2 separate regions of the Homo sapiens genome follow, and region 1 is linked to region 2. The links come from fine-mapping of genetic effects on gene expression. Tissue or cell type: whole blood. Region 2 holds a variant in brackets; the other region holds the start of a gene. All regions are shown on one strand. Distances are between the middles of the regions.

Region 1 (2,678 bases), 49 kb before region 2:
GTATGTATTACTTGTACCTTTAATGTAATTTAATTGTATGTTTGCATAATTTAATTTTTAATAATGGCTGTGTTTAACAACCAGTTCCAAAATTCCTGAGACATAACAATCAGCTCGCTCCAGCCAGATCCAGCACACTGCTGTTTTAGAAGGGGAAACTGAGGCTCAGGAAAATAAGCCTCAGATAGAAGAAGGCAGGGCACAGACCCCTTCCCAAAACCATGTGACTCCCAGGCCAAGACTATGTAATGCCTGTCTTTCTTTCATCCCACCCTGGTCCACAGAGCATGGATGGTCCCCACAGCGCTGTGTGGCCTCCGAGAGGCTCTTGTCCTCTCTGGTCTCAGCCTGCCCGCATGGGGAGTGGCTGTGCCCTGCAGGCGAATACCTGCACAGGGTTCCTTCGCACCTGCCAGTGAGCAACACACGGATTCTTCCTTTCACTTTACAAACTGGGAAAGTGAAGCCCAGAAAGGGCAAGTGCTTGCCCCGGGTCATACAGGTGGACAGAGAGGGTCCCCACACCCCAGCTGGGGTGCAAAGGAGTGGATGCTGCAGCCCCAACCTGCGGGTCTGGATCTATGTGGCTGAGTGGAGGCAGCCTGACTAGGGAGGTCACTGAGCCCTCAGCAGTGGCCAAGCCCCGCACACCATCCCCTTCACCCACCCCACCCTTAGGCCTCCGAGGGGAGAGCTTCCCCCGCTCCCCCCCGCCAACTGGGGAGAGAATGGGCCAGGGGGAGGGACAATGTGGGCAGCGCCTCTGGGGTCTTCTCTGGCTCAGTCCCTTTATCTCTATCTCTTCACAGATCTCTGCGTCTCTGTATCTCTTTGTCTCTCCCTGTGTGTGTGTGGGGTCTCTCTCAGTCTTTGTCCCTCTGCGTCTCTGGGTCTCTCTGTCTCTGTCTCCCTGCGTCTCTCTCTCTCTGTCATCTGGCTCTTCCTTCATCTCCTTGCGCCTCTCCACCCTTTTGTAACTCGTCTCTCTCTCTTCGTGTCTCTCTATCTCTACGTCTCTCGATCTCTCTCTCTGCGTCTCTGGCGCTCTGCCCCGGCCTCTCTCTCCCCTTCTCTCCTCTCCAGTGCGCCTCTCGTCTCGGGCGAGAACACGCTCCCCGCCGGCGTGCCCAGACCCGCCTCCGCCCCCGGAGCCCCCGGAGCCCCCGGCGCCCCGACCAGCCCGGGCCTGCGCCTTTAAGGGCCGGCGGCGGGGGGCGGGGTCCCGGCGCCCCGCCCTGCCCGCCCCTCCCCCTGACGTCCCTTCCTCCCTCCCCAGCCCCTCCACCGCCTCCCTCCGCCGCCGCTTGGGCCGGCTCCGCGCCCCCTCCGCGGCCCCCGCCCGCCCGCCTGCCCGCCGCCCCCATGGCGCCCGGGGTCCCCGCTGCACGGGGCCACTAGGACCCTCGGCGTCCCTTCCCCTCCCCCGCCCTGCCCCCTCTCCCGCCGCGCGGACCCGGGCGTTCTCGGCGCCCAGCTTTTGAGCTCGCGTCCCCAGGCCGGCGGGGGGGGAGGGGAAGAGAGGGGACCCTGGGACCCCCGCCCCCCCCACCCGGCCGCCCCTGCCCCCCGGGACCCGGAGAAGATGTCTTCGCGGACGGTGCTGGCCCCGGGCAACGATCGGAACTCGGACACGGTGAGTGGGGCCCGGCCCCTTGGGGAGCCCTGGCTGGGTCCAGCCGCCAAACCCTTCTCCCCGTTGTACCCCTCGCCCCGCGAGCCCCTACCCTCGTTTCCTGGGCCCGACCCGGCTCGTCACCTCTCGACCCCTCCCGGACTTCCAGGCCTCTCCACCCTCCCCACCTTTTCCAGCCCAGCCCGACCCCTGGGGGCGCCCCTCTCTCGGGACCCCTCTCTTGTCCCCGTGCAGACCGCTTCCGCTCGGGTCTGTTCCCTCCAGGAAGCCCCTTCCCCTGCTTCCAGGAGCCCCTCCCTTCTCTTGCCTGTGCTAAGCCGTTTCCCCTCCAGGCCGTCCGCGTCCGACACCTCGCCCCCTCCCGGATTTGCAGGGCCCCTGACCCCCCAAGGCCCGGCCCTGGCACTCTCAGCAGGGCCTGGCCCAGTCCTGCCTCTGGCTCCGGCCTTCCCTGTCTGGGGCTGGGTGCCGGCTCCCCAGGAGCCCCCCTCCTCTTATTCCCAGCCCTCTGCCCCTCCAGGACGCACCCAGGGCGCCTGTGGGCAGCCCCTGGCAGGAAGCTGGTTTCCACCTCTCCTGGGCCCCGGCCCTTTTCTGGCTTCTTCAAGGTCTCTCCCGTCCCAGGCCTGGTCCCCATCTTCCAAGCAGCCCTGTCCCTAGATCCCAGCACCCCGGGGCCCCCAGATGCCACCTGGACCCTTTCTGGTCTCTTCCTCTCCCAGGAAGCCTTGGCCTCCAACTTCTAGGCCCTCACCTCACCCAGGCTGGTATTTCTAGGCCCTGGACCAGTCTGACTCCAGGCCTCATCCGCCCTCTATCAACTTCTCAGCTTCAGGCAGCCCCTTCCCCAACCCCCAACCTCTGGACCCCCTGCTAGGCCAAACTCAGACCCCTTCCCCACAAACCACCGTCCTTTCTCCTGCCCCAGGGCCTCCCCCTTCCTTGCTGGGAGTCTGGCCTTCCAAGGAAGCCCCCTCCTCAGCTTCAGAGGCCTTCCTCAGCTACAGGGCCTGGCCCCAGATCCTTCTTCCAGAAAACTCCTGGA
Region 2 (2,678 bases):
TCAAAAAAAGAAAAAAGGGCAGGCCTCACGAAGGAGGTGTTGTTTGAGCAAAGCATGAATGTATATGTGAGCGAGGGAGTGTGTGTGTGTGCACACGTGCGTGTGTCTCTCTCTTTCTCTCTGTGGCCACTTATCTATGTAAGGGTGTGTCTCTGCCCACTCCCCTCCCTTTCATCTTCCACATTCTTCAGTATCTTTCCTGTGACCTGCACTAACCATTTCAGAATGAGCCCCGTTATGGGGATGGACAAGGAGATCAAATCCTGACTCCAGGCCCTCACCAGCCCGGAGGGACTGGGGTTGAGGCAGGGGCTGCTTGGAGTCCCAGAGGCAGTGGGTTGCGGGAGGTGGGTTCCCTATGTCCAGATTAGACACTCTGTCCCCCTCCCCTCCCCTAGGGTCGCAGACGAACCTGAGAGAATCGGGGGACCTGAGGTCACAAGGTGAGTGCTTGGGCCTACCCCTGACTGCCACTTCCCCTCTCCTGCCTCAGCACCTCCCGACACTTACCCCAGGGCATTAGATGGGGCCCCAGTCTCATCCTGCAAGGCCAACTTCCTGAAATGCCCTGTGGCCCCAGCCTTCTCTGCCAGCTCCTCTCATTCCCACCCAACCCCAAGCACCTTCCCTTGATCATCTTAAACTTCAGCCTCCGGCTGGGTGCCATGGCCCAAGCCTGTAATCCCAGCACTTTGGGAGTCCAAGGGAGGCAGATCACCTGAGGTCGGGAGTTTGAGACCAGCCTAAGATGGAGAAACCCCGTCGTTACTAAAAATACAAAAATTAGCCGGGCGTAGTGGCGCATGCCTGTAATCCCAACTACTCGGGAGGCTGAGGCAGGAGAATCGCTTGAACCCGGGAGGCAGAGGTTGCGGTGAGCTGGATTGTGCCATCGCACTCCAGCCTGGGTAGCAAGAGTGAAACTCCGTCTGAAAAAAAAAAAAAAAAAAAAAAAAAAGCCTCATCCCATCCACAACTCAACTCCTCTTCTGGTCAATGCCCCCACCTCCTTTTGCCTCTCATCCAGTCATGGCACAATGTTTGCTGGCAGCTCAGGGCCAGCAGGAGGCAAACATCTGTACGGACCCAGATCATGAAGATTTTAGGCTTTGAGGGCCAGGCACCCTGTGTCACGCCTGTTCAGTTGTGCCATTGTAGTGCAAAAGCAGTCATATTCAACACAAAACAAATGGGTATGGCAGTGTTCCAATGAAACTTTATTTACAAAAGCAGACAGCACTGGAGTTTGCCAAGCCCTGGTTTTGTCTGAGTTCCCGGTTTAGAGACCCAAGTGGAAACCGGAGCCTTCCCAGCAGCTGCAACAAACTGCCAGGGCTGACTCTCATTGGTTGGGACTTGGTCACATGCTCATTCCTAAACCAATGCCTGCAGCCAGAGAGGAGAAGTACTCTGGTTGGTCAGACCTGGTCATGTGGTCACCCTTGACCCAAGCACAGTGGCCGGGAAGTAGAATGCTATCATTGGCAGAGCTGAGTCGTGCTCACCCAAGCTGAGGGGCGGCCCCACCGGAACAAGGGAGGCTAGTCCTGGGATGCTCATGTAGAGCAGCACTCTCGTACTTCAGGCGGGACGTTTCTTTGTTGTGCAGGGCCCTCTTGCACATTGGAGAATGTTT[T/A]TCATTCCTGACCTACCCCATCCCCAACCTAGTCAGTGCCAGCAGTGCTCCCATCCTAAGACATGTGACAATCAAAAAGCCCCCAGAGGCCGAGCACAGTGGCTTATGCCTGTAATTCCAACAACTCAGGAGGCCAAGGCAGGAGGATCACTTGAGCCCAGGAGGTCGAGGCTGCAGTGAGCTGTGATTGCACTACTGCATTGCAAGACCCTGTCTCAAAAAAACTAAGAAGTGGCCGGGCACTGTGGCTCTCGCCTGTAATCCCAGCACTTTGGGAGGCCAAGGCAGGTGGATCACCTGAGGCCGGGAGTTTAAGACCTGCCTGCCCAACATGGTGAGACTCCGTCTCTACTAAAAATACAAAAATTAGCTGGCCGTGGTGCCTGTTCTCCCAGCTACTTGGGAAGCTGAGGCAGGAGAATTGCTTGAACCCGGGAAGCAGAGGTTGCAGTGGGCCAAGATTGTGTCATTGCCTTCCAGCCTGGGCGACAAGAGCGAAACTCTGTCTCAAAAAAAAAAAAAAAAAAAAAAGCCGGGCGCAGTGGCTCACACCTGTAATCCCAGCACTTTGGGAGGTCGAGGCGGGCAGATCACAAGGTCAGGAGATCGAGACCATCCTGGCTGACACGGTGAAACCGTGTCTCTACTAAAAATACAAAAATTAGCTGGGGCCAGGCGTGGTGGCGCGTGCCTGTAATCCCAACTACTCAGGAGGCTATGGCAGGAGAATCGCTTCAACCCAGGAGGCGGAGGTTGTGGTGAGCCGAGATCGTTCCATTGCACTCCAGCCTGGGTAACAAGAGCAAAACTCCGTCTCAAAAAAAAAAAAAAAAAGAAAAGGAAAAAGAAATTTCTCATTCAAACATTCAAACCATGTGGCCAAGCCAGGCTGGTAAGGCCACTGTGATCTATGCGGTCATTCAGGTCCCCAGGTTATTGCATCCCGATTCCCTGGAGCCCTTGTCATCTTCACAGTTGAGGCTGGCCTGTGCCACTGCTAAGTCCAGCTCCTGGGAGATGTGGGACAGGAGAGCCTGGCACA

Evidence for each region. PIP is the estimated chance that this variant, and not a neighbour inherited with it, causes the effect.
Region 1: MARK4 starts here. The variant in region 2 is fine-mapped to the expression of MARK4 in whole blood (TOPMed, PIP 0.95).

What each region holds. Positions count from the first base shown.
Region 1 is chr19:45,250,007-45,252,684 of GRCh38, forward strand. MARK4 (microtubule affinity regulating kinase 4) reads left to right here and starts at 1,265. Exons shown (of 17, transcript NM_001199867.2): 1 at 1,265-1,633. The coding sequence starts at 1,583. RefSeq lists silencers at 940-1,319, 1,550-1,699 and an enhancer at 2,173-2,678.
Region 2 is chr19:45,299,413-45,302,090 of GRCh38, forward strand. It overlaps MARK4 (microtubule affinity regulating kinase 4), which reads left to right. Exons shown (of 17, transcript NM_001199867.2): 16 at 399-443. Among named protein-coding and RNA genes, the nearest start is that of CKM, 22 kb to the right of the region's middle. The variant T/A (reference allele first, on the strand shown) is at 1,637.